Regions from separate parts of the Homo sapiens genome. Here region 1 is linked to region 2. Evidence: fine-mapped expression QTL. A gene starts in region 2. The other region holds a variant in brackets. All regions are shown on one strand. Distances are between the middles of the regions.

What was found. PIP is the estimated chance that this variant, and not a neighbour inherited with it, causes the effect. A credible set is the group of variants that fine-mapping cannot tell apart.
Region 1: its variant is the best candidate, but not a certain one, in a credible set for the expression of FCHO1 in whole blood (TOPMed, PIP 0.86).

What each region holds. Positions count from the first base shown.
Region 1 is chr19:17,776,810-17,781,192 of GRCh38, reverse strand. FCHO1 (FCH and mu domain containing endocytic adaptor 1) reads right to left here. Exons shown (of 29, transcript NM_015122.3): 19 at 2,965-3,056; 20 at 2,309-2,584. Among named protein-coding and RNA genes, the nearest start is that of B3GNT3, 16 kb to the left of the region's middle. The variant A/G (reference allele first, on the strand shown) is at 1,815.
Region 2 is chr19:17,749,312-17,753,694 of GRCh38, reverse strand. FCHO1 (FCH and mu domain containing endocytic adaptor 1) reads right to left here and starts at 2,218. Exons shown (of 29, transcript NM_015122.3): 1 at 2,118-2,218. It overlaps FCHO1-AS1 (FCHO1 antisense RNA 1), which reads left to right and starts at 2,298. Exons shown (of 5, transcript XR_007067152.1): 1 at 2,298-2,479; 2 at 2,945-3,037; 3 at 4,332-4,383. RefSeq lists an enhancer at 1-60.

The DNA of each region.
Region 1 (4,383 bases), 27 kb before region 2:
CCGGGGCCTCTGGGGCCTCCCCAGGGGCACAAACTCAGCCAAAATCTTAGGAGGTGGGCTTTTCTGCAGAGACCCCCAATGGGTCTGAAGTCCTGGTGTTGCAGAAAAGGTGCCAGACAGGACTGCAGATACTGTCCACACCCCCAACCCTCCCAGACACCAGAATGGTGGCCCAATAAGGGGTGAGCTCCCCATCACTGGGGGTATGCAAGCAAGCACTGAAGGCTTAAGACGCAGGCATGCTGTAAGGGGGGTTCAGCAGAGGATTTTTAGCCAACATTCAGCCATTTTGTGACCTCTACCCTTTCCGAGAACCTGACTGCAGCCACCTACTGTGGTCTGTGTCTGAGTCTCATGCCTTTAACACCCAAGCTCCCCTCCCTCTCCTGCTTCCTCAGGGTCCTGGTTCTGTTCCATCTATGAACGTGCTCCCTTGCTTGCCAACCTCCCCTCCCACCTACCTCCCCTCTCACCTGTACCCCAAGCTGTGCTCCCCGCTCTACCCGACTTTCTCAGCCTCAGCACTGTGGATATTTGGGGGCTGGACCATTCTCGGGGGCGGGGGCTGCCCTGTGCACTGTAGGGTGCTGAGCAGCAACCCAGGCCTCCACCCACTGAATGCCAGGAGCACCACTCCTGCCTGGTGGTGACAACCAAAAATGTCTCCAGACACTGACAATGTCCCCTGGGGGGGCAGAATTTGCAGGGTTGGATAAGAGCCTCTACTCAGGCCGGGTGCGGTGGCTCACGCCTGTAATCTCAACACTTTGGGAGGCCGAGGCAGGCAGATCACCTGAGGTCAGGAGTTCGAGACCAGCCTGTCCAACATGGTGAAACCCCATCTCTACTAAAAATACAAAAATTAGCCACGTGTGGCGGTACGCACCTGTAGTCCCAGCTACTTGGGAGGCTGAGGCAGAAAACTGTTTGAACCTGGGAGGCAGAGGTTGCAGTGAGCCAAGATCACACCACTGCACTCCAGCCCGGGCAACAAGAGCAAAACTCCCTCTCAAAAAAAAAAAAAAAAAAAAGAGCTTCTTCTGCCCCCACTCTGTGGTCTCCACCCACTCAGCTCTCCCTTGAACGGGCTCCAGCCTGGCCCTTTCCTATGGAGGGTGCCAGGAGCCCTTGTTGACACTACTGGGGACCTCGGGTGGTCACAGCCCACAGTCCCTCTGACTCGGGGGCTTCCCATTCTCCTCAGACAGCCCCCAGGAGCCCATCCCGCCGCTCTCCCCCCATCTCCTGCTGTCCTCCTGTCTCCAACCCCTCTGGGCTCCCCGGCTGTCCTCTCCTCTGCTCTCCCTGGGCGGCTGCTCCTCCTGTTTTGATGACGTCTTCAAGGAGGGGGTGCTCTGACCTGACCTTCCCCACACTCAGGGTCCACTGTGCACCTGACACCTAAAGGCACAGCCTCGACGTCCCCCACCCCTCCCTGACTCCACCCCTTCCCCATCCTCCTCCCTCCCTTGTCTCCGCCCCTTCCCCATCCTCCTCCCTCCCTTGACTGTCCCTTCCCCATCCTCCTCCCTCCCTTGACTCCGCCCCTTCCCCATCCTCCTCCCTCCCTTGACTCCGCTCCTTCCCCATCCTCCTCCTTCCCTTGACTCCGCTCCTTCCCCATCCTCCTCCCTCCCTTGACTCCGCTCCTTCCCCATCCTTACTCCTCCGAACTCTCCCCTGCAGCGACCTTTCCACCTGCTTCTCCCACTGCCACCCTTACCCCCATCGCCTACTTGCCTCCCTGGTTGCCTCCCCAGTCTCTGGTTTCTGCCCTCACTCCCGAAGCTGCCAGAGGGAGCCTGTGACCCCTG[A/G]GTCAGGTCCCGCCCCTCCCCTGCTCATGGCCCTCAGCGTTACTCAGGGTAACATTCACAAGCCCTCCCTGGGCCCATCAGGCCCTTCCTGGTCCCTGCCTTCTCTTCTTCCTCCTTCCGTGATCACCCCGTTCCAGCAGGCAGACCTCCTTGCTGTTCTTCAGACAGGCCTAGCGCGCTCCTGCCCCAGGACCTTTGCAGGGGCTGTGCCCTCTGCCCAGCACGCCTTTCCCCTCATGTCCACGTGGTTCTGTCCTCACCTCCCTCAAATCTCAGCTCAGATGTCCCTTCCTCAGGGAGGGCCCCCACCTGGCACCCGCTACCGCCTGCCTTGCTAAATGTCCATCTCATTGTTGTCCCTGCAACGGTGGGAGGTTCTGCCTGCCTGGTCCTGGCTGTGTCTCCAGCAGCCTGATCAGGCCCTGCCCAAAGCAGGCGCTCAATCCCCCGCCCAGGGTTCCAGCAACTCTCAGGCCCAGGCCCGCTGGACTCACCTCCTCCGGCCAAGGCCTCCAGCCCCCAGGGGCCTGGAGACGAGGCGAGGGGCTGCGGCGAGTCTGGCAGAGGCGGTGCCCGGATACCCCTGGCCTCTGGGGGTGGCGCCCTACAGCTGGGCGGGCTCTGCGGGGTGCCTGGGCGGGGGACCCAGGAATCTGGGGAGGGGCCAGGTGCCGCGTGGGACGGAGAGTCCAGGCCGGAATCCTCCACGTTTTCGGGCGACGAGGAGGAGAAAGGGGAGGGGCTGGAGGTGAAGCCCAGGCTGCTAGAGCCTTGGGGAGGGAAGCGGGCGGTCAGCTCCGACCCTCGCCCACTCAGAGTCCCTGCCCATCCTCCTGCAGGCCACGGCCACGTCGAGGGAAGGTCAGGGGGGCCCCCATTCAAAGTCCTTGTGCACGCCCCCAAGGCTACACCTTCTGGTGACTTCCCTCTCCACAAATGTCCGGCCCATCCACTCAGTCACCGCCCACTGGCCAAGGCCCCACCCTATCTATGGCCCCTCCCACGCGCACTCTGGCCCCGCCCACCCCTACACGGACTAGTCCTCCCTCCAGCCTGGCTTCCAGGGGACCTCATTGGCCTAACTCTGCAATGGCCCCACCCAACCTCCCTCCGGCCACACCCATGCCCTCCAATCCCTTATCCCCATCACCTGTAAAATCTTCGTGGTCAAAGGCTGACTCCAGGGGCGGCCCAAAGAGGTTCTTGGACACCTGCTCCTCTGACTGCAATCTCTCTGCACAGCTAGAGAGGGTGAGGCCAAGAGGGCTGCTTCTATTTTTCCCAAGCCTCATCCCACCCTGGGGCCTTTGCACATGCTGTTCCCAGTCTTTTTTTTTTTTGAGACGGAGTCTTGCTCTGTCGGCCAGGCTGCAGTGCAGTGGCACGATCTCAGCTTGCTGCAACCTCCGCTTCCTGCGTTCAAGCGATTCTCCTGCCTCAGCCTCCAGAGTAGCTGGGATTACAGGCACCTGCCACCATGCCCGGCTAATTTTTGTATTTTTAGCAGAGACGGGGTTTTACCATGCTGGCCAGCCTGATCCCAAACTCCTGACCTCAAGTGATCTGGCTGCTTTGGCCAGTGCTGGGATTGCAGGTGTGAGCCACTGTGTGCAGCCTGTTCCCAGTCTGGAGTTCCATTTCCCCAGCTCTCTTCACAGTCACCTCCTAGCTCCTCTTTGGGGCTTAGCTCCAAGTCACCCCCTCAGGGAGGTTCCCAACCCCACCTCAAGGGAAGTCACCTCCTCCTGTCTTCGCGTCATCTGCTTTAGTTTCTTCGTAGCACTTAGAAGTATCGAATATGCTCTAACTTATTTGCTTTTTTTTTTTTTTTTTTTTTTTTTTTGAGACGGAGTTTCCTCTTGCTGCCCAGGCTGGAATGCAATGGCACAACAGTGGCTTACTGCAAGCTCCGCCTCCCAGGTTCAAGCGATTCTCCTGCCTCACCCTCTCGAATAGCTGGGATTACAGGCATGTGCCACCATGCCTGGCTAATGCTGTATTTTTAGTAGAGATGGGGTTTCTTTATGTTGGTCAGGCTGGTCTCGAACTCTCGACCTCAGGTGATCCGCCTGCCTTGGCCTCCCAAAGTGCTGGAATTACAGGCGTGAGCCGCCACGCCTGGCCCTATTTGCTATTCTTAAAATCTGGAGTCACTAGAATGTGACTCTGAGAAGGGAGACCTGTCTCAGAACCCAGACCCTAGAACAGCACAGGTACACAGCAGGCACTCAATAAATGTTCATCAAATGAATGACTAAATGGTCCCTCAAAAGCCAGCATGGGCCAGGCACAAGGGCTCATGCCTGTAATCCCAGCACTTTGGCAAGCCGAGGTGGGCAGATCACTTGAGGTCAGGAGTTCGAGACCAGCCGGGCCAACATGGTGAAACCCTGTCTCTACTAAAAATACAAAAGTTAGCTGGGCGTGGTGGTGGGTGCCTGTAATCTCAGCTACTTAGGAGGCTGAGGCATGAAAATCGCTTGAACTCAGGAGGTGGAGGTTGCAGTGAGCTGAAATCGCACTCCAGCCTGGGTGACAGAGTGAGACTCTGTCTCAAAACAAAAACAAA
Region 2 (4,383 bases):
ACCCTGTCTCAAAAAGAAAGAAAGTTAGTTAGTTTAATTGGACCCATTATCATTGAGCCTCCAATCCCGGGACTTCTGTGAGTCACCCAAGACCTCCTACTTGCTCACCCAGACTAGAACAATGTCAGGGTCCCTGAGTTGATTCAGCCTCGGGCCTGGCCCTGCAGGAGTCCCCAGTCTAGAGAGACAGAGCTGGACACAGATATCACCGTCCTGCATGGTCAGGGCTGGGCCAGATGGAGGGACAAGGTCCAAAAGAACCTGGACTAAAGGAGGGCTCATGGGAGTTGGGGTTTTAAAGCATGAATAGGAGTTCACTGGGCAAGGAATTATTTGTTTCAACAAACATTCCCAACCCTGCACTGGTTAATGACAGGGCCCCTGAAAAACTTCAGTCCCCACCACACCCCCTTAGGAAACCTAGTTTGGTGGCAGGGGTAGGGTGGTGAGCATGCTACACTGACATCCCTAGGGGAAAAGCCCTAAATTTCCATATCATTTCTTAGCTTCTGTCCATGACCAGGACCCTAAGCATCTCCAAATCTCTTAGAGCTGTGCTGACTGGCATGGGAACCACTAGCCCCATGTGGTGACTTAATTTTTTTTTTTTTTGGAGACAGGGTCTCGCTCTGTTGCCCAGGCTGGAGTGCAGTGGTGCGATCATAGCTCACTGCAGCCTCCACCTCCCAGGCTCAAGGGAGCCTTGAATAGTAGCCTCCCGAGTAGCTGAGACTACAGGCTCACGCCTGAATAATTTTTGTATTAAGTTTTTTTTATTTTTTTATTTTTTCTGGAGACAGGTTCTTGCTCTGTCACCCAGGCTGGAGTGTGCAGTGGCATGATCACAGCTCATGGCAGCCTCGACTTCCCAGGCTCAAGTGATCCTCCCATCTCAGCCACCCGAGTAGCTGGGACTACATGTCTAACTAATTAAAAATAAATTTTTTTTTTTTTTTTTGTAGAGACTAGGTCTCACTAGTGTGGCCCAGGCCAGTCTCGAACTCCTGAGCTCAAGCCATCCTCCTGCCTGGGACCCCCAAAGTGCTGGGATTACAGCCATGAGCCACAACCCCTGGCCTTAATTTTTGTATTAATTTTTGTATTAATGTTAAACCAAGTAAAATTAAATACAATTGGCTGGGCGCAGTGGCTCACGCCTGTAATCCCAGCACTTTGGGAGGCCGAGGTGGGTGGATCACTTGAGGTCAGGAGTTCGAGACCTGCCTGGCCAACATGGTGAAACCCCATCTCTACCAAAAAATATAAAAATCAGCAGGGCGTGGTGGCACACACCTGTAGTCCCAGCTACTTGGGAGGATGAGGCAGGAGAATCACTTGAACCTGGGAGGCGGAGGTTGTAGTGAGCCAAGATTGCCCCACTGCACTCCAACCTGGTTGAAAGAGTGAGATTCTGTCTTAAAAAAATAATAATTAAATACATACATACATACATACATACATACATACAATTATATGCCCAGCTCCTCAGCTGTGCCAGCCTCTCTTCCAAGGCTCAGTAGCTACATGGGGCTGATGGCTGCTGTATTGGATGGCCAACATTGTTCTAGAAGATCCCAGGAACCAAGGAGCCCAAGTTCCCCAGAAACCAAGAATCTCACTACTGTTTTCACAGTTTCAATTAGATTGCCTCACCCCACCTCTGGCAGACAGATACACATGGAGCACCAGTATGTGTGCGACCCTGTACCCAACTATTCACACGCATCTGCTCATCCAATCTTCATGCCATGCCCTCAGAGGCAACCCCAACTTTATGAAGGAAACCGAGGCACAGAGAGATCAATCATTGGTCCCGGCTGACTGTGATTTTGCCCCTGGTCTGTCTGCCAATGACCTCCTGTTTGAAACCATCACGCGTGGCTCTCTGGGTTTCCAAGCTCCCCTTGCCGCCCCCCTAACCCAAACCACCACTCACAGCTGGAATGGGGGACGGGGGGCAGGGCAACGGGTGGCCCCATGCAGGCTTTGGCCAGCCCAGGAAGTGACACCTGCTACTTCTCCTGAAACCCAGGCTCCGGGCAGGGGGGCCTCCCCTCTGTTCCTGAGGGGGGCCAAGGCGAGATGATGGGTATCTACTGGCCAGGGCTCAAACTCACCGGACAGGGTAGCGAGTGGGATGGGGCCCCTGTCTGACGGGGCAGGCGCCAGGAGACAGCCACGAGGCCACTTCCGTCAGCACCAAGTTGGAGGCTTGTGTGCATGGGTTGGGGGGGGGACAGGAAGCTCACCCCGCCCCGCCTACCATCCAACCGCCACCTTTCCTCCCCCGCCCGATCAGCACCCATGGGACCTCCCTGGAACCACACAGGCCATGGGTGAGTAAACAAGAGGCGCTTGAACCTGGAGCCCCCCGGCCTGAACCTGGAGCTGTTCTTACCGAACAAATATTAATCATGGCAATTGGGAAATAACTGAGCACCAACCCTGGCCCAGGCATTCAACATCTTGCCATCCTGAGGTAGGCCGATACCCACTTCACAGACTGGGCAAACTGAGGCTCAGAGAGGGAAATGCGCTCAGAAAGGGGAAGACATGGCCAGGCGCGGTGGCTCACGCCTGTAATCCCAGCACTTTGAGAGGCCAAGGTGGGTGGATCACGAGGTCAAGAGGTTGACACTATCCTGGCCAACACGGTGAAACCCCGTCTCTACTAAAAATACAAAAATTAGCTGGGCGTGGTGGCCCATGCCTGTAGTCCCAGCTACTCAGGAGGCTGAGGCAGGAGAATCACTTGAACCCGGGAGGTGGAGGTTGCAGTGAGCCAGAGGTTGCAGTGAGCCGAGATTGCGCCACTGCACTCCAGCCTGGCGACAGAGCGAGACTCCATCTCAAAAAAAAAAAAAAAAGAAAAGAAAGGGGAAGACATTTTTGCATTCATGAGCGCTTTCCTTCACTACAAAAGAAATTTAAAATTATATTTTAGGTGGTGGCTGATGCCTGGAATCCCAGCACTTTGGGAGGCCGAGGCAGGTGGATTGCTTGAGCCCAGGAGTGCGAGAACAGCCTGGGCAACATGGTAAAACCCCGTCTCTACTAAAAATACAAAAGTTAGCTGGGTGGGGTGGCATATGCCTGTAATCCCAGCTACTCGGGAGGCTGAGGCAGGAGAATCGCTTGAACCCAGGAGATGGAGGTTGCAGTGAGCGGAGATCGAGCCACTGCACTCCAGCCTGGGTGACAGAGAGAGACTCTGTCTCAAAAACAAAACAAAACAAAACTGTATTTTACAACTACATTGACATAAAGACAAATATATTAATATTATACACAAAAATGTTTCCTTCAACCCAAGAGTTCATTTTTTTCCCTTTGGATTTTAAAAGAAGTGAAAACATCAACCTAGGGACCCCTAAAAGCACTGTGAGCCTGAGACACTGGGCATTTTGGGTCTGATGGAGAAGTCAGCCCTGCTAGAACCCAAGTCTCCCAGCCTGTACAGTACCAGCACAAAGCCCAGAGATGGCCGGAGACTTGCCCAAGGTTACACAGCACATTGCCAGCTGACTCAGAGGTCCCCATCCTGCCTTCCCGGCACCAAGTCTTGCAAACCTGGGGCTGAGACATGTGAGCAGCCCCAGAACAGATAAAACAAAGCAGGAACCACATCAGCAACAAAGGCAAGACCCGAGCTCCCATCCTGGGAATCGAGTGGTGCCTGGCTGGGTGTCCGGAGCCGCTGACGTCTTGCCTGATGACCTTGGGCCACTCCTGACCTTCCACGATCTGGCTTCCAGGATCCTGGGAAACAGGATCTCACATTTCCCTCTCTCTTGGACCCCAGTGTATGTACAGTAGGGCCAGTAGCAAGGGTTTTCTCATCCTTCCCACGGACCAGTCACTTGGTTCAAGCAGGTACCATGCTGTTTCAATGACCCACTATGTCATGTCTCCCCTCTTGGCCTCGCCACCTGGGCTGCGATCACAGACAATCTGGCTTGATTCTCGTCACCACACCTCAAGGCAGTATCTTATCTCAACCAGCACCACGATGGGGAAACTGAGACACGTGCCCCAGGTCACACAGTGACTCGGGCCACCAAGTGGGAATCTGAGCCAGGGATTCTCAGAAATTTTCTGTCCTCCCCATGGGTCCCCTCCCTCTTCCTCACTTCATTTGGCAAACATCTATTGAATGCCTACTGTGTACCCAACTTTCCCAGGTGCTGGAGTCTCCTCAGGCAATGCCTTTGATAGACTCCCCCTTCCCCTCCCTCCTCCTGGTCAGCTGTGACCCGATTTAAAGAGCACTAATACTGTCATTAATATTATAATAATCATGTCTGTATTTACAGAGCTTCCTCCTCCCACAGACTCCTCCCATCTTCCCAGAGGAATTCAGCCCATTTCACAGAAGAACAAACA